Regions from separate parts of the Homo sapiens genome. Here all the other regions are reported to be linked to region 5. Evidence: microRNA targets listed by miRTarBase, many of them from high-throughput screens and not tested one by one. Region 5 holds a microRNA gene; each other region holds the end of a gene's coding sequence.

The links. The annotated mature microRNA hsa-miR-5192 reads AGGAGAGUGGAUUCCAGGUGGU and lies in region 5 at 1,143-1,164, opposite strand. An mRNA with a match to its seed (bases 2 to 7 or 8) in the 3' UTR can be bound and repressed. Matches are read on the target gene's strand: a 7mer-m8 pairs with bases 2 to 8, a 7mer-A1 pairs with bases 2 to 7 and ends in A, and an 8mer does both.
Region 1: the mRNA of ZNF69 is a reported target of hsa-miR-5192. The part of its 3' UTR that is shown has no 7-base or 8-base seed match.
Region 2: miRTarBase lists SUPT4H1 as a target of hsa-miR-5192. Seed matches in the 3' UTR shown: 7mer-A1 at 313-319.
Region 3: the mRNA of ANKRD45 is a reported target of hsa-miR-5192. Seed matches in the 3' UTR shown: 7mer-A1 at 1,917-1,923 and 7mer-A1 at 1,957-1,963.
Region 4: miRTarBase lists BHLHA15 as a target of hsa-miR-5192. Seed matches in the 3' UTR shown: 7mer-A1 at 808-814 and 7mer-m8 at 1,550-1,556.
Region 6: miRTarBase lists POLE3 as a target of hsa-miR-5192. Seed matches in the 3' UTR shown: 7mer-m8 at 1,934-1,940.
Region 7: the mRNA of ZMAT5 is a reported target of hsa-miR-5192. Seed matches in the 3' UTR shown: 7mer-m8 at 3,519-3,525.

Annotation. Positions count from the first base shown.
Region 1 is chr19:11,905,362-11,909,436 of GRCh38, reverse strand. ZNF69 (zinc finger protein 69) reads right to left here. Exons shown (of 4, transcript NM_001364730.1): 4 at 2,741-4,075. The coding sequence ends at 3,339. Among named protein-coding and RNA genes, the nearest start is that of ZNF700, 18 kb to the left of the region's middle.
Region 2 is chr17:58,342,456-58,346,530 of GRCh38, reverse strand. It overlaps SUPT4H1 (SPT4 homolog, DSIF elongation factor subunit), which reads left to right. Exons shown (of 5, transcript NM_003168.3): 5 at 218-1,353. The coding sequence ends at 285. The region is part of intron 3 of TSPOAP1-AS1 (TSPOAP1, SUPT4H1 and RNF43 antisense RNA 1); the gene reads right to left. Among named protein-coding and RNA genes, the nearest start is that of SUPT4H1, 7.7 kb to the left of the region's middle. RefSeq lists an enhancer at 1,784-2,313.
Region 3 is chr1:173,606,655-173,610,729 of GRCh38, reverse strand. It overlaps ANKRD45 (ankyrin repeat domain 45), which reads left to right. Exons shown (of 6, transcript NM_198493.3): 6 at 515-2,394. The coding sequence ends at 585. Among named protein-coding and RNA genes, the nearest start is that of SLC9C2, 5.6 kb to the right of the region's middle.
Region 4 is chr7:98,212,494-98,216,564 of GRCh38, forward strand. BHLHA15 (basic helix-loop-helix family member a15) reads left to right here. Exons shown (of 2, transcript NM_177455.4): 2 at 1-2,964. The coding sequence ends at 386. TECPR1 (tectonin beta-propeller repeat containing 1) reads right to left here. Exons shown (of 26, transcript NM_015395.3): 26 at 2,131-4,071. Among named protein-coding and RNA genes, the nearest start is that of BHLHA15, 3.1 kb to the left of the region's middle.
Region 5 is chr2:62,202,971-62,207,045 of GRCh38, reverse strand. MIR5192 (microRNA 5192) reads right to left here and starts at 1,220; the gene lies at 1,129-1,220. The region is part of intron 1 of B3GNT2 (UDP-GlcNAc:betaGal beta-1,3-N-acetylglucosaminyltransferase 2); the gene reads right to left. RefSeq lists an enhancer at 3,930-4,075.
Region 6 is chr9:113,405,536-113,409,610 of GRCh38, forward strand. It overlaps POLE3 (DNA polymerase epsilon 3, accessory subunit), which reads right to left. Exons shown (of 5, transcript NM_017443.5): 4 at 4,075; 5 at 1,700-3,448. The coding sequence ends at 3,276. Among named protein-coding and RNA genes, the nearest start is that of POLE3, 3.1 kb to the right of the region's middle. RefSeq lists enhancers at 3,938-4,075, 4,040-4,075.
Region 7 is chr22:29,727,514-29,731,513 of GRCh38, forward strand. It overlaps ZMAT5 (zinc finger matrin-type 5), which reads right to left. Exons shown (of 6, transcript NM_001003692.2): 6 at 3,443-3,841. The coding sequence ends at 3,712. CABP7 (calcium binding protein 7) reads left to right here. Exons shown (of 5, transcript NM_182527.3): 2 at 149-292; 3 at 1,117-1,229; 4 at 1,542-1,695; 5 at 1,929-4,000. The coding sequence ends at 2,056. Among named protein-coding and RNA genes, the nearest start is that of CABP7, 9.5 kb to the left of the region's middle.

The sequences.
Region 1 (4,075 bases), not on the chromosome of region 5:
GGTTTGCCAGTATTTTATTGAGGATTTTTGCATCGATGTTCATCAGGTATATTGGTCTAAAATTCTTTTTGTTGTGTCTCTGCCAGGCTTTGGTATCAGGATGTTGCTGGCCTCATAAAATGAGTTAGGGAGGATTCCCTCTTTTTCTATTGATTGGAATAGTTTAAGAAGGAATGGTACTAGCTCCTCTTTGTACCTCTGGTAGAATTCAGCTGTGAATCCATCTGGTCCTTGACTTTTTTTGGTTGGTAGTCTATTAATTATTGCCTCAATTTCAGAGCCTGTTATTGGTCTATTCAGGGATTCGACTTCTTCCTGGTTTAGTCTTGGGAGGGTGTATGTGTCCAGGAATTTATCCATTTCTTCTAGATTTTCTAGTTTATTTCCATAGAGGTATTTATAGTACTCTCTGATGGTAGTTTGTATTTCTGTGGGATCGGTGGTGATATCCCCTTTATCATTTTTTATTGCATCTATTTGATTCTTCTCTCTTTTCTTCTTTATTAGTCTTGCTGGCGGTCTATCAATTTTGTTGATCTTTTCAAAAAAACAGCTCCTGGATTCACTGATTTTTTGAAGGGTTTTTTCTGTCTCTGTCTCCTTCAGTTCTGCTCTGATCTTAGTTATTTCTTGCCTTCTGCTAGCTTTTGAATGTGTTTGCTCTTGCCTCTCTAGTTCTTTTAATTGTGATGTTAGGGTGTCAATTTTACATCTTTCCTGCTTTCTCCTGTGGGCATTTAGTGCTATAAATTTCCCTCTACAAACTGCTTTAAATGTGTCCCAGAGATTCTGGTATGTTGTGTCTTTGTTCTCATTGGTTTCAAAGAACATCTTTATTTCTGCCTTCATTTGTTATGTACCCAGTAGTCATTCAGGAGCAGGTTGTTCAGTTTCCATGTATTTGAGTGGTTTAGAGTGAGTTTCTTAATCCTGAGTTCTAGTTTGATTGCTCTGTGGTCCGAGAGACAGTTTGTTATAATTTCTATTCTTCTACATTTGCTGAGGAGTGCTTTACTTCCAACTATGTGGTCAATTTTGGAATAAGTGTGATGTGGTGCTGAGAAGAATGTATATTCTGTTGATTTGGGGTGGAGAGTTCTGTAGATGTCTATTAGGTCCTCTTGGTGCAGAGCTGAGTTCAATTCCTGTATATCCTTGTTAACTTTCTGTCTCATTGATCTGTCTAATGTTGACAGTGGGATGTTAAAGTCTCCCATTATTATTGTGTGGGAGTCTAAGTCTCTTTGTAGGTCTCTAAGGACTTGCTTTATGCATCTCAGTGCTCCTGTATTGGGTGCATAAATATTTAGGATAGTTAGCTCTTCTTGTTGAATTGATCCCTTTACCTTTATGTAATGGCCTTGTCTCTTTTGATCTTTGTTGGTTTAAAGTCTGTTTTATCAGAGACTAGGATTGCAACCCCTGCTTTTTTTGTTTGTTTTCCATTTGCTTGGTAGATCTTCCTCCATCCCTTTATTTTGAGCCTATGTATGTCTCTGCACGTGAGATGGGTCTCCTGAATACAGCACACTGATGGGTCTTGATTCTTTATCCAATTTGCCAGTCTGTGTCTTTTAATTGGAGCATTTAGCCCATTTACATTGAAGGTTAATATTGTTATGTGTGAATTTGATCCAGTCATTATGATGTTAACTGGTTATTTTGCTCGTTAGTTGATACAGTTTCTTCCTAGCCTCAATGGTCTTTACAATTTGGCATGTTTTTGCAGTGGCTGGTACCGGTTGTTCCTTTCCATGTTTAGTGCTTCCTTCAGGAGATCTTTTACAGCAGGCCTGGTGGTGACAAAATCTCTCAGCATTTGAATCTGTAAAGGATTTTATTTCTCCTTCACTTATGAAGCTTAGTATGGCTGGATATGAAATTCTGGGTTGAAAATTCTTTCCTTTAAGAATGTTGAATATTGGCCCCCACTCTTTTCTGGCTTGTAGAGTTTCTGCCAAGAGATCCGCTGTTAGTCTGACGGGCTTCCCTTTGTGGGTAACCCGACCTTTCTCTCTGGCTGCCCTTAACATTTTTTCCTTCATTTCAACTTTGGTGAATCTGACAATTATGTGTCTTGGAGTTGCTCCTCTCGAGGAGTATCTTTGTGGCGTTCTCTGTATTTCCTGAATTTGAATGTTGGTCTGCCTTGCTAGGTTGGGGAAGTTCTCCTGAATAATATCCTGAAGAGTGTTTCCCAACTTGGTTCCATCCCTGTCACTTTCAGGTACACCAATCAGACATAGATTTGGTCTTTTCACATAGTCCCATATTTCTTGGAGGCTTTTTCATTTCTTTTTACTCTTTTTTCTCTAAACTTCTCTTCTCACTTCATTTCATCCATTTGATCTTCAATTACTGATACCTTTTCTTCCACTTGATTGAATCAGCTACTGAAGCTTGTGCATGCATCACATAGTTCTCGTGCCATGGTTTTCAGCTCCATCGGGTCATTTAAGGTCTTCTCTACACTGTTTATTCTAGTTAGCCATTTTGTCTAATCTTTTTTCAAGGTTTTTAGCTTCTTTGTGATGGGTTCGAACATCCTCCTTTAGCTTGGAGAAGTTTGTTATTACCGATCATCTGAAGCCTTCTTCTCTCAGCTCGTCAAAGTCAAAGTCCAGCTTTGTTCCATTGCTGGCGAGGAGCTGCGTTCCTTTGGAGGAGAAGAGGCGCTCTGATGTTTAGAATTTTCAGCTTTTCTGCTCTGGTTTCTCCCCATCTTTGTGGTTTTATCTACTTTTGGTCTTTGATGATGGTGATGTACAGATGGGTTTTGGTGTGGTTGTCCTTTCTGTTTGTTAGTTTTCCTTCTAACAGTCAGGACCCTCAGCTGAGGTCTGTTGGATTTTGCTTGAGGTCCACTCCAGACCCTGTTTGCCTGGGTATCACCAGCAGGGGCTGCAGAACAGCAAATATTGCAGAACGGCAAATGTTGTTGCCTGATCCTTCCTCTGGAAGCTTCGTCACAGAGGGGCACACGGCCGTATGAGGTGTCAGTTGGCCCCTACTGGGAAGTGCCTCCCAGTTAGGCTACTTGGAGATCAGGGACCCACTTGAGGAGGCAGACTGTCCATTCTTAGATCTCAAACTCCATGCTGGGAGGACTGCTACTCTCTTCAAAGCTGTCAGACAGGGACATTTAAGTCTGCAGAAGTTTCTGCTGCCTTTTGTTCAGCTATCCAGAATGCATTCTTATGTGTGCTTGTGTCCTTTACTGAATTCGAAGGTTCTGGGCAGACCTGAAGGGTTTCCCACATTCTTTACATTCATGGTTTCTCTTGATTGTGTGTCCTACCATGCATTCAAAGGTGTGAGGCAGATCTGAAGGCTTTCCCTCATTGCTTACACTCATAGGGTTTATCTTCAGGGTGAGTCCTACCATGCATTCGAAGGACTGAGGCAGCTCTGAAGGCTTTCCCACATTGCTTGCATTTATAGGGTTTCTCTCCAGTGTGAGTCCTTTCATGGTATCGAAAGGAACTGGAACTACTGAAGGCTTCACCACATTGCTTGCATTCATAGAGTTTCTCTCCAGTGTGAGTTTTTTCATGTCTTTGCAATGATTTGGGACAATAAAAGCCTTTCCCACATAGCTTACATTTATAAGGTCTTTCTCCAGAGTGTATTCTTACGTGTGTTTGTGTCCTTTCATGACTTTGAAGGTTCTTCATAGATCTGAAGGCTTTCCCACATTCCTGACATTCATAGGGCTTCTCTCCAGTGTGAGTCCTACCATGCAATTGAAGGTGTGAGGAAGATCTGAAGGCCTTCCCACATTGCTTACACTCATAGGGTTTCTCTCCAGTGTGAATCCTTTCATGATAACGAAGGGAACTGGAATGAATGAAGGCTTTACCACATTGCTTGCATTTATAGGGTTTCTCTCCACTGTGAGTTTTTTCATGTCTTTGAAATGAATTGGCAGAACAAAAGCCTTTCCCACATATCTTACATTCATAAGGTCTTTCTCCAGAGTGCATTCTTATGTGTGTTTGAAAACTTGTAAGAGAGGATAATGCTTTCCCACACTGCGTACATTCATAGGGTTTTTTCCTAGAGTGGGTCCTTTCAT
Region 2 (4,075 bases), not on the chromosome of region 5:
CAGGCTAGTCTTGAACTCCTGACCTCAAGTGATCCACCTTGACCTCCCAAAGTGCTGAGATTGCAGGCATGAGCCACCGTGCCTGGCCAAGCAGACGATTGATAAGTAGTCTAGGAACTCCAGTTTGCTTATAGTACCCCCCTCAAGGTGGCAGCTGAGTGGCCTATCTTACCCTTCTGAATCTTACCTCACAGAACTGTTTCTTTTCCTGCTTCAGGAATCGTGCGGGAGCTGAAAAGTCGAGGAGTGGCCTACAAATCCAGAGACACAGCTATAAAGACCTAGCAAGATGCAAGGCTGCCAGCATCTTTGCTCTCCACCTCCTGCCTCTGCTTATTTCTTGTTCTGGAACTAAATGAACAGAACTTCAAATACTTCCTACCCTCCAATTCAGACTCAGCTGACTGTTGAGAGAGCAGCACATCATTTTATCATTTTATCTTCTTTGGACTACAGGTGGGGTGGGAGGGATTTGGGTTGGTGGATTAACAGATGGAATTGAGGAGAGAGTAGGATGCTGATTTTCCTACCCGTGGCCCAGGTCTGTGCCTTCCCCATGCCAAGGACTCTAGGTCAAATGTCAATAAATATGAACCTCGAGAAAGTTCTGAAGGCCATGACACCTGCCTTGCCTCCCTCTTCCATTCTCTTAGGCACAGTAATAGCTTATTTGCCCTATAAGAACCTTCCCAGAGCAGCAGAGGCCCTTCTACTCCCTCTTGACTGTCTCAGCCTCTGGGATTGCAGCCTTTGTAGTGTGCTTCCTTGCTTCCTATCGGAGGGTGCTGATCCAGAGGCTCAGTAACCCCATCAACTTGGTGGCCCTGGTGTCTCACACTTGTATCCTTCTGCCCTCGAGACCTGGCACAGCAGTATCCCTTGAAGAAATCCTGAGGCTTTGTAGAGTGCTCCTTGACCATGTTTAATAATTCTTCCCTCCCCTGCTTGTCTATTTTCTTCTCTTCACGGCTCTTCCTATACCTTAGGCCAGTCTCAAGCACTCACTGGAGACCCTTGGGCCTTGGGCGACCATTGAGTCCTAGTCTCCCTTGTTTGTGCCCCTGTAGGAGGTAGGTCCTTTTCTCCTCCGGCCTAGTAGGGGACCTTGGGTAACATCCCATTTTTCGGCCAAGGTGAGTTGTTTTAGGATAAAAAAATTTACCACAAATTCTCATTTAAATTTCCACAGAAATCCTGTTCGTATCCCCATTTTGATTTCCCTAAGTTCCTTGTTCTCCCTCTAAAAAGAGAATGATTGCACCCTGCCTGTTTACCTCAGGATTGTTGTGATTGTAGAAACGAAGCTATGTGAAAATTATATAAGTATTATAAAGGTGAAATACTTTTGCTCTCCTTTTTGGGCCATTTTTCAATACATAGAATATGTGCACAATCAGCCAAAATAGTAGGGGAAATGCTGAGAACCACAACTGCAGGGTGAGCTGTGCTGTGCTAGGGCAGAGCTGCCTGTGCTAGGGCTTTGTGTCTCAGCCACCTGGTGTTGCTCTTGAGTTGATTTTGCTTGTTACCTGTGGCCTGGAGAGTGTGGGAAGGAGGAGAGATGCGACCTGACTCTGATTAGTTTGTCTACTCCCCTTCCTTGTCCTCACATAGGCCTATGGGAGGGAAACTGGGACTGGCCGGGCTGCTCATGTCCACTATGGTCTTCAAACCAAAACCATTTTCTCTGGTGCCTTCAAGCTCTGAGGGAATGGTCAGATAACCCCAACTCCAAACTGAGTTTCTCAAGGATTTCCCCAGCCCAGCAAACAGAAAGCTCCGTGGGTGGTGATTTCTGTTCAATTTCAACCTGAAAGCAACCCTGCCAGGCTAGAGCTTACGTCCTGGATGGAAGAAGTGCGTTTCAGCAAGTGCCCAGGCTGTGCAGCCAACACCCAACTTTCACTAGCTTCTCAAAAAGTCCCTTGGAAAGCCCCAGCTGCTGTCCTGGGTGTCTGACCCGGACGTGGCTGCTTGGTGAGAATGGAAACAGTTGTGGGGAGGGGAGGCAAGAGGAGCTTGCACAAATAACCACATTCAGGCTGCCTCAGCCCTACACTGAACTGGGCCCTAACTGACAGTCTCACAGGAAGCAAAAGACATAGCATAGGCATTGATGCTTGTGGGGGAAGGGTGGCCTGTTTTCCTTCCTGGACTCTACAGACTGTGCCAAGTGGGCTCTCCCCGGGAGCTGCTGCTGAATTAGCTTTCTTGCTTTCTCTGGTACTTGAACATGCAGGTGGTGCCACTCAGCAACCCAGACAGGCAGAAAGGTGCTGGAGTCCCATCCTCTACTGGGAACCCAAAGAAACTAAGACAAGGACTTGGTTCACAGCTCCCTGGGAGTGGGCGGTCCTGGTACTGCTGCCCTGCTTTCCATGGCTATGAGGGCAGCCATGAGAGCTATGTCCTGCCCCATTGGCCCATTGTGTCTGTCAGAGTTTCAGTCCCGTCCTGGCTGCCGAAGTTCTGAGTGCATAGCATCTTAAGATCTCTCCTTGTCTTGCTCAGTAGTTTGGCTTCTCTCCTGAAGAGCAAGCCTCCTCCCTAGCTCAACAAGGACAGATGCAAGTCAGACAGAGACTAGGAATAGTAGCCAGGCTGCCTTCCCCTTGCCTGCCCTTGCCTCATTCCCTGCTTCCTCCCTGCCACATACTGTGGAATTAGGGTCTCCCAGAACACTGAGGAGCTCAGTGGCAGTGCATTGATAATGCAGCCTCCAGCTCAAGAAAGGACTGGTAGCTGATAGAGCAAGGGTCAGGATGGTCTGGTCTTGGAGGGGAGCAGTTTCACCAGGGTTGGGAACTGAGGCTTTGCTCTTGGTGTGGCTTCTGCCTTGTTACTCCTAGTCTGTCTGCAGCCTGCTACTTGATCCTCAGGTCCCCTCCCTGACATCTGGTCTCTATGAAAGAGGCAGGTAGGTCATGTTTAAGAACAGACTAATAATAACTTTGTCTGGAAGTCTGGTTCATGTTTAGTATCAGTAAAGCCTTTCATGTAAATATTTTTACAGTTGACAAAGGTGCTGGGTGCTGTGGCTCATGCCTCTAATCCCAGCACCTTGGGGAGGTCAAAGCGGGCAGATCACTTTGAACCCAGGAGTGTAAGACCAACCTGGGCAACATGGCAAAAGCCCATCTCTACAAAAAATTAGCTAGGCATGGTGGTGTACACCTGTAGTCCCAGCTACTTGGGAGGCTGAGGTGGGAGGATCCCTTGAGTCTGGGAGTTTGAGGCTGCAGTGAGCCGTGATGGCGCCACTGCACTCCAGCCTGGGGGACAGAGTGAGACCGTGTCTCAGAAAACAACAAAACAAACCCAAATACAGTTGACAAAGGGCTTTCATATCCAGTATCTCATTTGATTCTCACAGAAACCCTGGAACTAGTTAACATCCTTATTTGGTGATGAGGAGACTGAGACTCAAAGAGTTAAAGTGTCTTGACTGGGCACGGTGGCTTATGCCTGTAATCCCAGCACTTTGGGAGGCCAAGGTGGGTGGATCATGAGATCAGGAGTTCAAGACCAGCCTGGCCAAGATGGTGAAACCCCGTCTCTACTAAAAATATAAAAAGTTAGCCAGGTGTGGTGGCGGGCGCCTGTAATCCCAGCTACATGGGAGGCTGAGGCAGGAGAAGTGCTTGAACTCGGGAGGCGGAGGTTGCAGTGAGCCAAGATCGTGCCACTGCACTCCAGCTAGGGTGACAGAGCAAGACTCTGTCTCGGGGTGGGGAAGAAAAGAGTTAAAAGTGTTTTAGCCATAATCAAGTAGTGGAGCCTCAGCTCAAGAAATATAATGTCCACACTAAGTTTAGGGCTACTAACTGTTTGTGACATAGTTGTCCACAAACACAGCAAGTTTTTTTCCCTCCATAAGTGTTCAACAGAACCAGTGTGAGGCATTAGCTTTCTTCTGAGTGAAGTTATTACAACACATTGTCCCTACACGTTGAGCCCACCAACCACTCTAATCCCACCACTCTAGTCCCTAAGTCTAAAATTAGCCAAAGAGATGGAGGCAGTGGGGCAATGGCCCAGGGAGGGGATCCTTGGGATTTACTCAAGGATTCCTGTG
Region 3 (4,075 bases), not on the chromosome of region 5:
CTGCCTCAGCCTCCTAAGTAGCTGGGACTATTGGATATACGGTTATTCCCACCTCTCCACCAGTACCATTAACCTGGCCCAACAATCCCCCCTCCTTCCCTTCTCACCTGTGAAGATTTGCCTCTCTCCCCCGACCCCCTATATCACATGTTCTCTAAGCACCTTCATATCACAGAATGTTAGATCTTGATGGAACCTCTGAAATGAACCCTGACTTTGCAGTGAAGAAAGTGAAGACAACAGAGGTTTAGCGGTTTATTCAAAGTTACTCTCATCAATGGCAGAACTAGGGACAATAATACTGATTATATGGGAAATGTGACCTCACAGCTTTAAATATAGTGAACAGGAGAGACTATTTGAATGACATACCAACAACACTAGGGTTGAATTAGTAGCTGGTTCAGCCTGGGACAATCTAATTTATTCCATTCTTATTGTCTTAAAAACTGGCTTCATTTTGTTTCATATTGCAAACTAATTAAATGTAATTTTAAAATCTGTTTCCTTTCAGGTCAAGTGAAAAGTGCCAAATCTGTAACAAGCCATGACCAGAAGAGAAGTCAAGATGATACCTCCAACTGAACATACGTTCTGTAAAAGGCCACATTTTCTTTTAGTATCTGAAAGGCAAACCTATTCATGCCATTTGAAATCGAGAAAACAGATGTGGGTTTCTTTAAGTATTTAAGTACAACATTACATCGCCCTTGTTTTGTTTGACCTGTTCAGCATGCTTATGTCCGGACTCTGGCCTCGCCTCTGCTCCTCCAAGCACAGCCCCATGTGAGTTTCACGTGCTCCTTCAGGAAAGCACTTGGGTATAAATCATTCGTGAAGACCATGTGGAGGCTTTAAGAACTACTCAGAGAATCTAATAATTTTCTGTGTAATTGAGGCATTCCATATAAAAGGACATATTTGGCTATTTCCAGAGAAAAAATTTGTTCTCCCTGCCTAAAAAGGAAATCTTATGGAATGACACTTGGAGCAAGGAAATATTAAGACCAGCTTGGATTAGGAGCCTCTGGGTACAACTATCACTTTTTATGTCCAAAATTAAATTTCACCTGTGAGGTGGGGTATACCTCTGAGTAAAACCCCTCTTTATCTTTGACCTCCTTCTATCTGTAAATTAATAAACACAAATCTGTATAGTTTTATACTTAGAAGAGTTCTCCTATTCTGTAAGGCTGGCAATACAGATATTGTAACTGGACTGAAGACCATTTCCCCTCCCATTCTGTTTTATATTTCCTAGGTTTTAAGTACGATAGTTGGTTTCATATTGGTGGTTTGGAAAGCCTTTTTTCTAATTTATTTAATCAGGCGCCTCAACCTTCTCTTACGTTGTGACTTTATGGAAAAGTTTTATAGAAAAGAAGATGGTTTTTAAAAAGCACTTATTGTTCGTTCTTATGGCTTTCTCTTCTTTGTCCTGTTCTGAAAGCTAGTTTTCCCTTATGGGGAGAAGGAAAAGGAATGGGTAATTCAGTAATACTTTGTCAGTTGACATTTATTTAACCATGGTTTTGAGATAACCCTGTTTTAAATGTCTCCCAAAGTTTTTAGTTTTTTATCCTTTTAATGTATGAGCAATTCAGTTTCAATTTTTTAAAGCAAAAGAACACTGCAATAACTTTCAGCCACCTTTTTGGCCGACCCAGTGGGTGTTTATGGAGCAGTACAAAGAAGACCTGTGTTTGCTCCTTTTTTTTTTTTACCCTCCTTCTCCCTTCTCCCTTTTCCCTTCCCTTCCCCTTCTCCTTCCTCTCCCTTCCTCTCCCTTCCCCTCCCTTCCCCTCCCTTCCCCTCCCTTCCTCTCCCTTCCTCTCCCCTCCCCTCCCTTCCTCTCCCCTCCCCTCCCTTCCTCTCCCCTCCCCTCCCCCTCCTCTTCTCTCTCCTCCTCCTCTTCCCTCTCCAACTCCTTCTTCTTCCTCTCTTATCTCTCTCTCTCTCTCCACCCCCGCAACCTTCTTGACAGGGTCTGCCTCTCCTGCCCAGGCTGGAATGCAGTGGAGTTATCATGATCATAGCTCACTGTAACCTGTAACTCCTGCACTCAAGTGATCCTCCCACCATGCTTGGGTAATTGAAAAAATAAACATTTGCAGGCTGGGTGCTGGCTCACACCTGTAATCCAAGAACTTTGGGAGGCCAAGGCAGGCGGATCACCTGAGGTCAGCGGTTTGAGACAAGCCTGGCCAACATGGTGAAACCCTGTCTCTACTAAAAATACAAAAATTTAGCTGTATGTGGTGGCACGTGCCTGTAATCCCAGTGACTTGGGAGGCTGAGGCAGGAGAATCACCTGAGCCCGGGAGGTGGAGGTTGCAGTGAGCCGAGATCGCACCACTGCATTCCAGCCTGGGTGACAGAGTGAGACTCCATCTCAAAAAATAATAATAAAAACAAATAAAAATTTGCAGAGATAGAGTCTTGCTACGTTTCCCAGGCTGGTCTTTGAGTTCCTGGCCTCTAGCATTCCTCCTGACTTGGCCTCCCAAAGTCCTGGGATTACAGCTGTGAACCACTATGCCTAGCCCATTTTCTTAATACAGTATATTGTGCGAAGACCGGTGTCCTTAAGGACTGCAATAATTTAGGAAAAGTCCAGGTGCCATTTTTGTCCTTTCTACTCTAACGCTACATTTTCTGAGCTTGGATTTTGAATACAACATTATTTTCCAGGAGTGTGTTCCAGATTAGGGAGGGATTCCTGGATTCTTACTTCAAAGATTTCTAAATTAGACCAAGGCATTTCTGGAGACCCCTTAGTATAAAATAAACCTATTTTCCCTCTTTATTAATCTTTCAATCCTTATCCTCAAACTTTTTATAGCTTTTGATATATTTGCTGATGCTATTTTTAAACTCCTTGTGTTGGTACTTTTATGTCAATTATGATTCCTCTACTCTCTTAAAACTGCTTTTCTAACTCCTTCACCAGTTCCTCTTCTTCCTCTTGCCCCCAGTTGTGAGAATTTCTCAAAATTCAATCCTAACCTTTGGTAAAGCAATCTGTAATTCTCTATTCCATGACCTTCCCTGTCACCAGTATTATGAAGAATGAGTCTTTCCCTCTTTAGGGCACCCATAGTGCTAATAGCCTCATACTGTATTCTACTTAATTGTTCACAGGTTTGTCCTTCTGTGTGAATTGTAAGCTTTTTGAGGGTAGGGATTTTGTTTTGTTCTTTTTTTATACCTAAAAAGTCCATAAAACAGTAAGTTAGTAAATAACTGAATGAATTATCTTTTAGTAATACCTTATACATAGAACTCATTACCTCTTCATTAATTTATAGAGCTTGTGCACCTTTATAAAAATGACTCCCAACACTTATCTCCATATCTTGCCCCATTTTAACTCCTACTCCTCTAGCAGATAAGCCACACATACATCCAACATCTCTACGCCTAATTTCTCCTCTGACCTTCTATTTTCTAAGCCTTCACATTGAATGTCATTTTACTTTCTGGCATGTGAACCAAGTGATTACAACAGATTCCTGGATCTCATGTCAAAGATTCCTTTGATGTGAGAATCTGAACATTTATTTATATCTATAGATTTACAATTTTAGTCCATTTTGAGAGTTATAGTATCTCTTGTTACATATTGTTACATTGAATTATAGATCTATTCATAGGCAACTTTAAATGCCCGTAGGCTTTGAGTTTGAGCTGTTACATAGGTAGCTGCATGGCTTTTTCTGAACATCCACAAAGTAATTACTATTCAAAGTGCATACTAATAAATCAATGAAGCCTCCACATTATTTGGGAAGTAGTCAATCAAAGGCTAAATTCAATGTTATGATAACTTTTAGGCAGTAGTTCTTTAGACTTCTGTATTTAATTGAACAGAAAAAATGTAAAAAAAGGGGAGGAGATTGATAGGACATCATTAATAAAACAACTACTATCTACTATCACTATCATTTAACAAAAGACATTTTAACACCAGAAAAGGGAAGAGATCTCAGTGTAGGGCTCTACCCTTTAAGTTAAATAAATTAAGTTTTATTATAGACCTTTATGTTGTATTTATTTTTCTTATTTTGTCATATAT
Region 4 (4,071 bases), not on the chromosome of region 5:
GACCCTCCGGGCCCGGTGGCCGTCGTGACAGCAGCATCCAGCGGCGGCTGGAGAGCAACGAGAGGGAGCGGCAGCGGATGCACAAGCTAAATAACGCCTTCCAGGCCCTGCGTGAAGTCATCCCCCACGTGCGCGCGGACAAGAAGCTCTCCAAGATCGAGACGCTCACGCTGGCCAAGAACTACATCAAATCGCTGACGGCCACCATCCTGACCATGTCCAGCAGCCGCCTCCCAGGCCTGGAGGGGCCGGGCCCCAAGCTCTACCAGCACTACCAGCAGCAGCAGCAGGTGGCTGGGGGTGCGTTGGGGGCCACGGAGGCCCAGCCCCAGGGCCACCTGCAGAGGTACTCCACGCAGATCCACAGCTTCCGAGAGGGCACCTAGCGCCCAGTCCTGGGTGGGGGTGGCGGTGGCCGCAGCTGCCTGGCCTGCTCCTCCCAGCCCCAGTCCCTCCAAGCCACGAGCCCCAGATGGGCGGTGACACCCCACAAGGACACGGCCTCAGCGGTTCCATTTTCCCCCGAACATTCAGCCACTTCCCTGGAGCAATTTTTCCTGCCCCGCTGGGGACCAGCGAGTGGCCTAGTTGCGGCTGTGGCCCTGGACAGCGGCGTGAGGCCCAAACCTCTAGGTAGGGCCCAGTTGGATCCTGATTTTTCATTGAGCCAGGCAGTCTCAGCCCGAGTTGAAAGGCCTCCTTAGCCTTGGAACTAACGTCTCTTCACCCTGACTTCTGGGCAAGGGGAGATCCCAGGAAAAGGTTTACCTGCAGGTTTTCCAAGGCCAAAGCCCCAGCAAGGACCCCCTCTCCAACCTTTGTTATAGGGCTACATGGGGCCTGGGCTCAGCATCCTCATTTGGGGTAAACTGAGGCCCGGGACAAGCCCGGCAGAGCCTAAGGCTGCTCGGGGAGTGGGGCCAATCAGAGATGATTGGAGCTGCCAGAAACTCTAATCAGATGACCTCCAATTCATCCTTAAAAGTTGAATGGTGGGGAGGGGCTGGAGTCTCTTCCTCCCTCCTCCCAAGTTGGGGCTCCTGGATGTGTTGACTCCAGGCTGTGCCTGGTTGTGGAGGGTCTGGGGCAGGGTGTGAGGGGTGCTGTGGAACTGGAGCAGGAGACAGGGCTGGGTGTTCCTGGTGCAGCCCTTCTGGGCATGGGAGAGAAGCCCCAAGGCCCTGGGTTGCTCCCCAAGAGCAGCTCTGAGGCCTCCTGCTCAGCCCTGGCCTGTGTGGGGAGCGAGTGTGCCCCCCACCCAGCCCCTGCCACCGCCGTTACTTATTCTCACTGATGTGGGGTTATCATATAATTGGCACCATGCTGTCTGTAGGACATTATGACGTGCTTGGGTTCTGGTTTGAGTTGGCAGCCCGTTGGGTCTCTCTGCCTGGTGGAGCCTTGGGGTGGCAGGTACGTCCCTTCCCCCGCCCAGGTGCTTCATCCTCATGGCCAGGCCTGGTGGCTTGGCACGTCTCTGCTGCCCCAAGCCCAGCTTCCTTCTGCTGGGCGTTCCTGCCCCACTGGCTCTGCCGGACTTGGCTACTGGACTCTCCCCTCCCTCATGCCTCTGCCCAGAGATGTCCCAAAGGCCCTCAGGGCCAAGCCGGGCCAGGGATGTGGCTGCCACAGCTGAGACCAAGGGCTCTGGCTGGCCCGTCCCCACCAGGTGGCCCTGCCCTCCCCAAGTTGGGGGTTGTGGCACTTGGGGTCAGGCCTAGCCACGTAAGGACACAGGTAACACCCTGAGGATCTGGCATTGGCAGCTTCAGGCCTAACTTTCCTGGTCAGGGCCCCTTAAGGTGGCCCGGGCACATTGGTTTCATTTCGATGAGACTTTGTCAGAGGCCTGGTCTGGTCCTGGCCCTACCGCCCCAGCTGTCCTTCAGCACAGCTCGGGGTGGGGACTCCAGGATGCTGGGTCTGCCCCTTGGGAGGGGCACTCTGGAAGGTCAGGGTGATCCACAACTGTGAGCTGAGGTTGGATGCAGCTGGGAGCTTGGGACAGAGAGAGCCCAGGGCTCCCCTGCTGTGGGGCACCTGCCCAGCGGGGACATGAGATGACAGAGACCTCCCCGGCGGGGGTACTCAGGTGCTACGAACATGGCAGCTCTTGTTTCCGGCTGAGCCATGGCCAGAGCAGGGCTCAGTCTGCCCCTGAACTTGCTGAATGGACCGACGAGCTGAGCCTGAAAGCCCAGAAGAGCCTCGGTCCAGAAGACGGAGACTCGGCCCGGTGTCCAGCGCAGCCCAGGGCTTCCTGGGGGGCAGCAGGAGTGCCTGGGGGTCACCGCCTTCAGGACAATGGCCTCAGTGGCTCTTTCTTTCTGCCCTGAACTGGCACCTGCACCTCCTCTGCTTCCTAGAGGGTGACCTGGGCCGAGCCGCCCAGTCCTTCTTCCCCTGAGGCCAGAGGGGACGCCCCGCGGCCACATCACACAGGATCCTCAGCAGCCATAGTCTCGCTTCAGGGTGTCCAGTGTTTCGAGGAGGAGAGGGGACAGGGGCCAGGTCCACTCCCTTGGCCCTCCTCTTGGACCCCAAGGCCAGGCCGGATCCTTTTATCCCGTGGGGAGCCCCTGCCTCGGCCATCGGGATGAGGTCCCTCAAGTCCCTGCACAAGCAGGTCAGAGACCCACCCACATGCCGTTCCTGGGCTACGCCACGCGCCATCCCCCGGGGCTGTGGACGCACCCAGCCCCCGACAGACAGGCGCCCTGAGAGCTCCGAAGGCGCGATCCCCATCCCCACCAGTGGAGAAGCCAGAACCGCGATTGTTGCATCTGGGAAAACCCAGCTGGAGCCGAACGGCCCGTGCCCCCACTGTAATTGTGCTGAAAATGTTTCTCAAATGACCCAAATTGGCTCTTATTTTTTCTAATGGCCCTTTCAAAGTATTCATGAAATTGATGCTGTGTCATAAAACAAAAATAAAAGATTTCACAGCAATGTCTGCTTCAGGCACACGGGGAACCACGCGTTTTAATCAACGTATCGATAAAAAACACCAGGGCACGGACACTCCAGGGGAAATGCTTATTGAGTAAAGTATCCGAGGAAGTGATGCAGGGCAGGTAAACAGCTGGTGCTCAGCAGCGAGAGGACGCGTCACTCTGCCGTTCTGCAGGGTGACGCCCTCCCCGTACCTCGCTGAGAGCCACCTGCAGACACAGCAGGCCACAGCAGAATGCACAGGTCACTGTTGTAGGGGAACAAATCGTAATGCCCAGAGAAAACCTGATAGTGAAATGTAAACAGACAGGACAGGGTGGTTCCAGGTGGCCACCACCGCCAGGCCCTTCCCGTGATTGATCTGAGAGCTTCACAGCCGGCGGCACTGGGACCCATTTCCAGAAACACTGGAACACCAGGTCTCTCAGATGCCCGCGGGAGGGGCCCCAGGGAGGCCTTTCTCAGCATCAGCTTTTGGGTGACAAACCCCATACAGCAAAACTGTACAAATACACACAACGGACCCCCAGCTGACAGTGAGACCAGGACCCTAGGAAGGTCAGGTGGTGGTGAAGTCATCCCCTCTCCAACCGAGCAGAGCCTGGGGTTGGGCTCTGATGACCTCCCGGGCAAAGTGTCCAGGTGGAGGAAGCAAACTCCCAAATGGGGCACAGAGGTAATAAAAAGCAGCTGAGAGACTGCGGGATGGGGTCGGGGCCACTTGGCCGACACCTTCTGCCTCGCCTGGCCGGGCCGGGCCAGCCTCTCGCCACAGGATGGAGGGTGACTGTGCACCCTGCTCCATGTACAGGACGGGCTGAGGGTCCCATGGCCACTGCCGACAGACACAGTAGTACTGCTCCCCACAGAAGCCCGCAGTCTGCACCCTCCTACAACATGATTTGACATCCAAGAAGCCCCTGTCACCAGCGCATCTGGGGAAGGGGCCGAATGGGGGTTGATGATGGTGACTGCACACACGGACACTGCCTCCAGCCATGGGGCAGCCTCTCATCCTCTCCCAGCCTCCCGTCTGGTACCCCGGCCCCCTCAGGGAAGAGGACATCCCATCCACTCCAGTGTTATTTCCAATCTGCTGTCTCCTTCCTTCACTTTTTT
Region 5 (4,075 bases):
TTAAAAATAACCTTCTGTAACTTCAATAAGTGTTCACAATTATACAAATGACATTGTATTTTAAGTAATTTAATAAATTGCTTTGGGAAGTCTCAATTTCTTGGTAGTTAGGATGAAGGTTTCCAGTGACACATTTTCTTAAAAGAGAATATGCTCTTGGTTACAGCGAAGGGGACACCAGAAAGTGAGGTACTACAACCTCAGACTGCAGGACTCCTTGGCTTATCCATTTGGAGTCTTGTAGGGTAGCAGCTTGGAGAGAACTGCCTGACTCGCTCTTCCAAAAGCAGGCACAAAGAGTGCAGAAAGTTCTGCAGAGTAGACATGTGTAGAGATTTTTAAATAATGTTGTACTAGGCCAGGCACAGTGGCTTACACCTGTAATCCCAGTGCTTTGGGAGGTGGAAGTGAGAGGATCACTCGAGGCCAGCCTGGGCAACAGAGAGAGATCCTGTCTCTACAAGAATAAAAAACATATAAAAATAATGTTGGATTAAAGTGCATGGTCTAACACTTTGGGGAAGGGAAAAAAAATAGAGAAATGAGATAAAGGTATCAAGGACACTCCTTATAATAAAACAAATTAACCACTGCACACCTAGTGCCCACCCATTAGCTGAGTGAGGGCTTGTCCATATGCCATGGGCGCAATTGGATACACAGTCAAGTGGTGACTGAGGTGTCTTCATTTCACAGAGAAGTAAACTGGTTCACAGGATCAGAAAGTTGTCTGATGTTCCCAGAAAAAGTAGAGGGAGAGGGCAGGAACTGAGAACCCAGATGGGCCGCCCCCAGCCCAGAGCTGCATGGAGGGAAATGGGCATCCCCATCCTCGCTGAGCACGTCCAAGCTGATCCTTGATCCAGGCAGGCCACCCCTAAAACCCCATCCCGGAGGCCTCTAGACACCAGCACCCCTTAACAACAACTACTATCCTCCCCACCCATACCTCTTCTCAGCCTGGTTTCTCCTGGCTTAAAACATCCCTTATCTTGCTTCTCTCCATCCTTACCCCCATCCTTGAAGGCCCAGGTTCAAATCCTGTCTCCTCTTCCATGAGGACAGCCTTGATTCCCCCAGTCCATCGATTTCATCCTCTTCTCCTGGCACTCAGGATCCCCCAAAAGGAGTACCAAGCCCTCACCACCTGGAATCCACTCTCCTGGCTACCATGCTTCCCAGGAGAAATGGTTCCAGGTGAGCCAGGAGGCTGGAACTAAGCAGCCTGTCCCTCAGGTGGCAAATGACAGCCAAGGGCTGGCAGGCCCCGCCCACGGCACACAGCCACTAAATGCCAGCGCTCCTCCTCTCACACTGAGCATCCAGTTAAATTGGGCTCCCTCTGGGATGCTGCCTCTTCTCCACAGTCAGACATCATCCTCCTCCCAGAGGAAAACACTTCTAGTGATGTGTGACCCTGGGTGGCAACTTCAGAGCAAGGCGGCAAAGAAGCAAACCAGCTCCCTGCTCCATCTCGGATTCCTGTCCCGCCTCTTCTCCCTTTCTCAAAGGCTGGTTAAATCCTAACACCTTACTGACAAGTGTTTCAGGACTGTTGTTTTCAAGTTGTTGCTTTTTAAGTATCAAAATAAACCATATACATTTTAAAATACGTATCCTCAAAAAAAAGTAACACTTTGGCCTTTTATCCAAATGTTCTATAAAAGGGGAGGCATCATTCAGGCCTTCGACCAAGACTTGCTTCCGTATTTAAAGAAGTGCAATAGTAACATAGCTTTCTCCGGCCACCCGCCAAGAAAAGTTTTTGTCGCCACAGTAAAAAGAGAACATGTTTGCTCAATATGTGGGCACTATTGAACTGCTTAAAAACTGGGCCTCTTTTACCAAGCAATTTGAGTCACCTCAGTTTTAAACGAGTCTCTGCACGTTCCCTTCATATACCATAGGTGATCACATATGTGGAGGGACGAGGGACCACAGCAATCCCAGTGCCACGGGCTTCCAATCTCGCCGGTCTGCCTGTCACTCTCCCTGGGGGCGTCCAATCTTCTCCCCCAGCCTCCGCTATCTCTAAATTGATGGCTGCCCACTCTGTGGTCCATTGTGACCTTCTTCTCTCTCCCTCTCTAGATGGTGCCCATGGGCCCCTAGTCGTGAGTGGGGTAGAGATGAAAATAAAGAATCATCACCCTGAAGCCGCTGGTGGCTACCTGAAGCTTCATGATACCATTCTCTGTATCTGCACTTGTTTGAAAATTTCCATTATAAAGAGTTAAAAAAAGACGATCCATCAGAACTTTGAAGAATAAAAGTTTTTTAAAAAAGAGAAACATTCAGTTAAAAATAGGAGTATTCATGAGAGATATTTTAAGTTCATTTGAAGGAAATAATTCCTTATGTGGTAAAGGAAAAGAACAAAAATATAATGGCTGCATCTCAAGAATAAAGTTACATAAAAGTTCCTTATAAACAAGCTTCAAAGACAACCATAAAATAATAAAGGTAAAAATATATCTCACTAGTTCCAAATGTTGACTATTTAGAAAGGATAGCATTTGTAACACTTCGACCCTTTCATTATTAGACAAATATATTTGAATCTGAAAATATCATTCGGCTTCCCAGTGAACAATCTAGAGCCAGACCTGGAGGGTTAAAAACACACATGCACATAAAACTCACCACAATTGTGTTATTCCCTGATCAAGACTCAAAAAAGAAGTACTTTGGAGAACCAGTTGGATGTTAAGTGCTTCTCAAAGAAAATAAACAATTAGAAAAATTTCTACCAGGCACTTTGGGAGGCCAAGGCAGGTGGATCACCTAAGGTTGGGAGTTCGAGACCAGCCTGACCAGCACGGAGAAACCCTGTCTCTACTAGAAATACAAAATTAGCCAGGCATGGTGGTGCATGCCTGTAATCCCAGCTACTCAGGAGACTGAGGCAGGAGAATTGCTTGAACCCAGGAGAAAGAGGTTGCAGTGAGCCAAGGTCATGCCATTGCGCTCCGGCCTGGGCAACAAGAGGGAAATTCTGTCTCAAAAAAAATTCTGAAGCACAAATAAACTGCAGCAAGTTTATGGTCCATAGAAATATCTTCCCAGAGCATTAACACTTTCATATTCATGAGTTCAATGGATTCCAATAATAAACATGTGAAATTGGCTGTGCAGGTTTCATGCGATTCTGCAGGGAGGTGGGAAACAGGAGCTAAGTGGGTTGCCATAGCTACAAAGACATTTGATGTCAGCTCTGGGACCAAAACCTACTTCAAGTTCTCTACATCAGCCAGTCCCTGACCCCCAACTCCCAGGATCTCCACTCCCTGTGACAGCTCTTGCTGCTTCTGGGGTCTTGCACCAATAGCAATCTCCACTGTTTCCCCCATCTTCAGCCTCTCCCTCTCCAAAGGCACCAGGCACATGCTCCTTGTCATGCCCATTTGTCCTGCCTTGACCCTCCCAATCCCCCTCACCTTCTAGAATCTTCGCAGTCCTTGCACCCTCCTGACTTTCTAGGGCACCCAATACTGCTGGCCACCATGTCTACCCCACCCCAAGCTCAGGAACCCCCAGGGTTCTCTTGCATGTTGGCAGCCTTTGCTCCTTGGCCCCATCCCACAAAATGGACTTGCTCCACAGTTCTGGGCCCAAGTCTATTGCTGGGTCTTCCCTTACCCCCTATTCTTGTCCCCTAGACATCACTACAGACTCCCATATCCCGTATGCTAAAAAATGCCCCAATATACCTGTGTCATGGCCCTTCTCCTAACCTCCCTTAGTTGGTTTCCAAATTCCTTTACACCCACCAGGAGTCTTTCTCTCACCCACCTCTTCCAAACAACACACATACATATTTCAATCTTGTACTATCCCTGCCCTGGTTTGAGCCCTCAGTTTCCCCTCTACTAAGACTAACTTTAATGAAGTGGCCTAACTCAACAAATGTCAAACGCCTACTTAAACCAAGCAGTGTTGAAAACAGGCAGCAAAGAACCAAGTCAGAGTTGATTGCTGTAAGGTTGATAAACACTTAGATGAAATATGAAGCACTGCACAGGGGATAAGGAAAGGCTGCTTTATGCCGGGTGATCAGAGAAAACCTCCTCTCAGA
Region 6 (4,075 bases), not on the chromosome of region 5:
GATCACCTGAGGTCAGGAGTTCGAGACCAAGACCAGCCCGGCCGATGTGGTGAAACCCCATCTCTACTAAAAATAAAATTAGCTGGACGTGGTGGCCGGTACCTGTAATCCCAGCTACTAGGGAGGCTGAGGCAGGAGAATTACTTGAACCGGGGAGGCAGAGGCTGCAGTGAGACAAGATCACGCCACTGTACTCCAGCCTGGGTGACAGAGCGAGGCTCTGTCTCAAAATAAAAAAGAAAAAGCTATGTAGATTAGATAGGTGATATAGCATTGTGGTAAAGAGATAATAAAGGTAACAGCAGTGCTGCTTCATAGGGTTTAAGAGTTAATACTTAGGGCTGGGTGTGGTGGCTTATGCCTGTAATCCCAGTATTTTGGGAGGCCAAGGCAGGAGGATTGCTCGAGCCCAGGAGTTGGAGACTGGCCTGGGTAACACAGACCCTGTCTCAAATTAAAAAAAAAAAAAATTAAGGCCGGGCGTGGTGGCTCACACCTGTAATCCCAGCACTTTGGGAGCCTGAGGCGGGTGTATCACGAGATCAAGAGATTGAGACCATCCTGGTCAACATAGTGAAACCCCATCTCCACTAAAAATACAAAAATTAGCTGGGTGTGGTGGCGTGCGCGGCTGTAGTCCCAGCTACTTGGGAGGCTGAGGCAGGAGAATCACTTGAACCAGGGAGGTGGAGGTTGTAGAGAGCCGAGATTGTGCCACTGCACTCCAGCCTGGTGACAGAGTGAGACTCTGTCTCAAAAAATAAATAAATAAAAATAAAAAAGGGTTAATACTTGAAAGCAGTTAGTGCCAGACACAGTAGGGGGCTCAATAAATGAAGCTGCTGAGAATCTAGTATGTATAAGGGTGCCCAGCACATCCATGAAAAGCTCTTGCACCGGCCAGGCATGGTGGCTCACCCCTGTAATCCCAGCACTTTCGGAGGCCGAGGCAGGCGAATCATGAGGTCAGGAGATCGAAACCATCCTGGCTAACACAGTGAAACCCCATCTCTACTAAAAATACAAAAACAAAATTAGCCAGGCATGGTGGCGAGTGCCTGTAGTCCCAGCTACTAGGGAGGCTGAGGCAGGAGAATGGCGTGAACCCTGGAGGCAGAGCTTGCAGTGAGCCGTGATCATGCCACTGCACTCCAGCCTGGGAGACAGAGTGAGGCTCCGTCTACAAAAAAAAAAAGCTCTTTCAGCAGGTGTGTTGGCTCACGCCTGTAATCCCAGCACTTTGGGAGGCTGAGGTGGGTGGATCACCTGAGGTCAGGAGTTTCAGACTAGCCTAGCCAACATGGTGAAACCCTGTCTCCACTAAAAATATAAAAATTAGCTGGGCATGGTGGTGGGTGCCTGTAATCCCAGCTACCTGGGAGGCTGAGGCAGGAGAATTGCTTGAACCTGGGAGGCGGAGGTTGCAGTGAGCCGAGATCATGCCACTGCACTCCAGCCTGGGCGACAGATTGAGACTCTGTCTCAAAAAAAACAAAACAAAACAAAACAAATGCTCTTGCAGTAGTTCAGAGCCCTTGCCTGTGAATGAGCAGCACCTGCTGGTCATCCAAGGCGATGCAGTATCTCATGTTTACAAAGGTCTGGCCAGGACCACACGCCAAAAACTGCATGGAGAGTATCATCAGGGGCTCTCTCCAAAAACACACTGTGAACAAGCAGCATGAAACAGGAGGCATCATTTTTTAACAAGACTTTTATTTGTACAAAGCATTACAATCTTCTCAGCATTCTTCACTCACAAACTTTTCACTGTATTTAACAAGTTAACAGTGTCAAACTACACGTCACTACCTGTCAAACCCCAAGCACTCAACTTAGAAACAAAAAGCGCTTGGAGCACTGAATGGAAACAGAAAAAGGCTAAGAAAGGCCAACAGAGATATTTTAGAAGCAGTTAAAGAGGATGGTTTAGGGAGAGTTAGATTCCTGAGCACCATCAGATTTCCCTTAAGGTTTTTTGTGAAGGGGCTTCACAAAATAATTTTTAGAAGACATGAGACAAAATTAGCCAGGCTTGGTGGCACGCATCTGTAGTCCCAGATACTCAGGAGGCTCAGGCGGGAGGATCACCTGAGCCCAGGATTTCAAGGATGCAATGAGCTATGATCATGCCACTGCACTCCAGCCTGGGCCACAGAGTGAGAGACTCCATCTCTTAAAAACAAAACGTGAGATTAGAACTAAGGAATCAAGAGATCAGAGGAACTCACACTTTGGAGTATTAAGCAGGTTATCAAAGCTTACAGACTGACAGAAGTGAGAAAAGGAGGCAGATGAGAAAGTGGGATGGGGAGCAGAGGAGAGGCAGGAGAGAGAAAGGAAGCAGGAGGCACAGAGGGAGAAAGCTGTGCCTAGAGAAAATCAAGTTTGGCACTCGTCATGAATTGAAGAATGAAAAGCCATAGTCACAAGTCTGGGAGATGGACTACAAGAAGAGGAAGCCTGGGGTTTTACACCTTCCGGGAGGTGATGACAAATCCTAAAGCTGTACAGTAGCAGAGAGTAAGGTACATCTGACACTATGCCATCTGTTTTTGTAAAAGACACTGGCACCATGTTTGACTAATACCATTCCACACTGCTGATTTAAGAATATCTGTGATCAGATTACTACCACACCAGCAGGCCGATCATCTACAGGCAATATAGAAAGGTTTTGGGCCAAGTGGGTCTATGAAAAACAAAATTCAGTTAATGCTTCTGTCAAGTGAAGAGAGAGAACGGATTTTGTTATTCTCCCACAGCATTTTAGTAGTTTCCTAAAGCTTACTCATTCTGAGCAGTCTTAGTAAGCTACTATTGTCAAAGACTGTGCAATCAAACATAGGCTGACCATAAGCAAAGCCCCAGTTTTTCCTGAGCCTTGGCTGCCTCTGTGATCTGGAACACAGCAGGCAGCATGGAAGTTATTATTACTTATTTGGGGGACTAGGGAAGACTGCAGATCAAAAACCATCTAACCATACATTTAAGTAAACAAAAGCGAGCAAACTGACTAATTTAGTCGTTCAGAATCCCTCTTGTCAAAAGGCCATAACCTTCAGATTGATGAAGCAAAACAGGATTCTGCTACTCAGATGCTCTGAGTTTGGTAAGTGCTGGTTTTGACGGTATTTCTAGTCAGTTTTTATTCTGATCTTTTCAGGCACTTTTGCCTGAGACTACTCTGCCCAGCATGGAAAAGCTTCACAGAAACACGTAGCACGTCTCATTTCAAGTGGTACCTTCCAAGGTGCCACAGTCTCCCGCCCTTTTCAGTTGTCTACTTCTTCCTCTTCATTCTGTTCTTCTTCTTCCAGCCTTTCTTCGTCTTCATCATTGTCCTCATCCCTGCTCTTGTCTTGCTCTTCCGAGTCTGTTTTTTTGTCTTTGTCCTTCTTCTTTTGCTCTGAGGCCTCCTTCTTGCCTTTCTGCTCCCGCCTATATGCTGTAAGGACGGAACAAGGGGTTAGGAGACAGAGCTGAAAGTGAGCCAGACGGACTGCAGGAGCTAATTACATTGTACAATTGGAAAAACGGAGGCAGATGGGCGCGGTGGCTCACGCCTGTAATCCCAGCACTTTGGGAGGCTGAGACGGGCGGATCACCTGAGGTCAGGAGTTCAAGACCAGCCTGGCCAATATGGTGAAACCCCGTCTCTACAAAAATAAAAAATGAGCCGCACGTGGTGGCGTGCGCCTGTAGTCCCAGCTACTCGGGAGGCTGAGGCAGGAGAATTGCTTGAACCCAGGAGGAGGAGACTGCGGTGAGCTGAGATCCCATCACTGCACTCCAGCTTGGGTGACAGAGCAAGACTCCGTCTCAAAAAAAAAAAAAAAAAAACAAAAACAAGAAAAGCAAGACAAAAACAAAAACGGAGGCAGAGAAGGAAAAATAACTTGCTCAGCATTACAAAACAGATCTGAGGTGGTGCCCACCGAACTGGGTCGAGTCACATCAAGTGCTGGCTTACTGGACTTAAAGGGACCCGCGCTGAGAAGGCTCAGGGCCTGGTGAACAGGTCACACAGGATGACCATCTTCTATGTGGTTTAGAAGACAAGAGGCTCGTTACC
Region 7 (4,000 bases), not on the chromosome of region 5:
CTCGGGCCATGCTCTCACCAGATCTGCAGGCTCTGGGTTGGGCTCTCAAGGCCATGCTCAGGCTGCAGGGTCGGTGATCCTGGGGGTCTGGAAAGGGGGTCTGTTGGGGACCGGGGTGAAGTCCCAGCCTACTCCATTCTCTCCTCAGAGATCCGAGAGGCCTTCAAGGTGTTTGACCGTGACGGCAATGGCTTCATCTCCAAGCAGGAGCTGGGCACAGCCATGCGCTCACTGGGTTACATGCCCAACGAGGTGGAGCTGGAGGTCATCATCCAGCGGCTGGACATGGATGGTGAGCACCCCCCCGCCTCGGTTTCCCCACCTGGCATCTGGGCCCTGGGGGTGGGGCAGGGGCTGGGGCCTGAGCTGCTGAGGCTGCATCCAAATTGGGTCTCTCGCTCCCCTGACTCCCACCCTCAAAGTCCGTGGCAGGTTGCAGCCCGGTCTGGCCCCATTTCTCAGCCTGGAGAATTGAGGCCAGAGAGGTAGTGACAGTCCCAGCCACATGCAGGGCTCAGAGATGGCTCCTTTCACTCTGTGTTGAGAAGTTTTAAAGTACAGAGAAGTAAAAGGATGCAATAAATACTCCAGTTCCCACCACCTGAGATAAAATGACTACTTGAGTTGTGTTTGCCACCTGGCATTTTATTAAGGAAAAGTTCATAAGGAATAGTGATGCCAAGCCCCCTCTTTATCCCACCCGGGCCCTTCTTCTCCTCTTCTCCATCCAGAGGCCAGGTGACAGCCTTGGCAGGTTGCCCCACTCTGAGCTTCAGTTCCTGTCTATATGGTGGAGGATGGCCCACCCCAGGATGGCCGCAGGGTGCTGGGAGCAACGGAGGGTTCTGGGTGAAATAGGAGGGTCACGGCCCACCTGCTGTCTACCTCCACCTCCCCTTGTAAGGCCTCATCACACTGGGTGGCTTCAGCGTCAGCCCAGAGCCTGGCACTTGGTAGATGCCCCTGACACTGACTCAAGGCTCAGAGAAGGCGGGCACCTGCCTAAGGCCACCCGGTAGGCCCAAGGTGTATCAAGACTCCATCCCAGGACCTCTGGGCCCTGGGCTGCAGGCCTGGGCCCTACCCACTGATTGATTGGACCTGTGCCTCCACCAGGTGATGGTCAAGTGGACTTTGAGGAGTTTGTGACCCTTCTGGGACCCAAACTCTCCACCTCAGGGATCCCAGAGAAGTTCCATGGCACCGACTTTGATACTGTCTTCTGGAAGGTATCCCCTGGCTAGTTGGGACCCAGGGCTGTGCACACTGTGGAGTTCTGTTCTGGAGCCAGTGAATGGCTGGGCCCACACTGTAAAGGGGGGATGACCACTTCAGGCTTGTGTCCACTGGACATTTCACCTCTCAGAGGGCCATGGGCTCCCTGGGGAGGCCGGTGTTGGTCAAGGACTCTCTGGGGGAATGGAGCAAGTGTTTTCCAGCCCCCCAGAATCTAGAGGCCTGTCACCGGGTCTGTATGGCCGTGGGGTGCTGGGTGGGGGCTGCGGTGGCTCTCAGAGCACCGTGTTGTCCCCCTCCGCAAGTGCGACATGCAGAAGCTGACGGTGGATGAGCTGAAGCGGCTGCTCTACGACACCTTCTGCGAGCACCTGTCCATGAAGGACATAGAGAACATCATCATGACGGAGGAGGAGAGCCACCTGGGCACAGCCGAGGAGTGTCCCGTGGATGTGGAGAGTGAGTGGCTGGCCCTGGAACCCCACGGGTGGGCCCAGTGACTTGGCCAGGGGGACGCACGGGGTGGGGAGAGTCTGCAGAGGGGGGCTGGGGGCCTCCTTGCCTGTCCTAAGCCTCTGTCCCATTGGGGCACCCCATGGGATGAGCCCATGTGCCGAAGGGCAGGCGGCTCCTGACTCCATCGCTTTGATGTCCCCTTCTGTCTCCCCGGTGCTCCCGGCGGGCGGCCACAGCCTGCTCCAACCAGCAGATCCGCCAGACTTGCGTGCGCAAGAGTCTCATCTGCGCCTTCGCCATCGCCTTCATCATCAGTGTCATGCTCATTGCGGCCAACCAGGTGCTGCGCAGTGGCATGAAGTAGACGCCACCTGGATGCCCCATCCACCGCATGCGGTGCCCGTGGCCCGCCCCACACCACCGCCGCCTGCAGACCTCTCCCTTGGCCGGCTCCCTGGGCCGCCATCTGCGTGTACTTCAGGGCCTGGGTATCCAGCGAGCCCTCCCCACCCACCCACGGTCCTCACCTGGAGCTGTGGCCTGGCTGTGGAGGGCCGGGTGGTGGCTCTGAGGATGGTCCCCAGCCCCACCCTGTCCCCACCCTGGCCTGTAAGGAGCACTCACTCTTCCTACCATCCAGGGGCTCCTGGGAAATTAAGGAGGGATTTGCACAGGAACCCCCAGGACCCAGTCGCTGCTGTGGTCCCTTGGGCAGGAGCGGGCACCCTGTGCCTTGAGACAGCAGCCTATCTGGGGCCACACAGCCAACCCAGCCCTGGTCCCTGAGGTCTGCCCAGGGCACAGGGCACAGGCAGGGACAGAAAGCCTTCTCCTGGGGGAGGGTGGGAAGCCAGGGTGTCCTGGGCCTTGCTGCCTGGCATAGCCTGAGGAGGCCCCTGGTCTTCTCCTTGGGCCCCTTCCTCTGACCCTCGTTGGACCCCAACCCAGACCCCCTTTTCTCCATGTACCTGCTGGGCCAGCCCATTTCACAGGTGAGGAACCCGAGGCTCAGGGCCCCGAGACTTGGCCTCAGTTCTTCCTTCCACAGGGATTTTCAGGAAAGGCAGAAGCTCGTGGAGGATGGGCATCTGAGGTGGCCCTGCAGCCCCCCACCTTCTGGCCCTCCCACCAGAGGCCCAGCTACCAAGGCCACATTGTCCACCACCCCAGCCTAGAGCCTAGAACTGTAGTCCAGCTGAGGAAGGAGGCAGAGCTGGGGCCTGAAGGCTCTGAGCAGCCTCCAGCCAGGGGGCTCCTCCAGGGCTGAACTTTGGGAGGGCCCCTGTACTACCTCCTGGGCCAAGAAACTGGCACAGCCCCACACTGTCAGTGCCAAGAGGCTGCGCCAGGCCACTCTCTCAGCCCAGGGCCTGCCCTCCTGTCCTCCCACTTCTCTACGCCCTCAAGGTTGGAGACCCCGCTCCCATGCCCCAGCTGTGCCATCCCAAATACTTGGGCAGCAGCTCAGCATGGGCAGACATGGGGGCTGTGGATTCTTCCAGGGCGGGGATGGCAGATGGAGCCCTTGGGCTCCTTGGGCCTAGAGCCACTTCTTACCAGGCAACGGGCACAGCCACCCTGGCACACCCTCTGCCTGGCCGTGCTGAACCTCTGCTGGTCCCAAGGGAGAAGGGAGTGAGCGTGGGTCACCTGGGGAAAATCTCATCTGATTCCCTCCTTGCCCGACCTCTGCTAGGGGCTGGAGAACAGAGCTCAGAGCACCCAGTGTAGGGAAACACAGCCAGACCACTGTGGTGACAGACTTTCTTTATAAACATTTGGAAGTTTTCTCCCCCATCTTCTTAAGAAGCAGGGGGGCAGGTGGAGGAGAGTGAGGGGAGAGCTGCCCGGTGCAGACCCAGGACGAGGGCTGCACTTGGTGTGGCCGTGTCCTGAGCCTCAGTGAGGCTGGGCAGATGGTCTCGGAGCCTCCATGGGGCGTAGCAGGAACCGGGCTTGGCTTCCTATTGTGACTGATGAGAAAAGTGACCACGTGGGGGTCAGTCGGGGGCAAGGGGCTCAGCCCCACTGGACTCTGGGCTGCAGAGGCCACCCCCCAGGTGGGGGTGCCCGCAGGGATGGAGGCAGCTCCTGAACTGGTGGCCAGCCCACGGGGTACTGGAAGACAGTGGTTCTGATGGGTTCAGCCCTAGAGAGAGAGAGAGAAGCGGGGAGAATAAGAGTGCACTACAGCCCAGGCTTATGCCACCCCCAGCCCACCTGCCTCACCACCCTGGCTGTGGGGAGGGTCAGCTGCCTGCATGACTTTTCTGGAAGGCAGAGCCTCGAAAATAGGCAGACCGTTTGA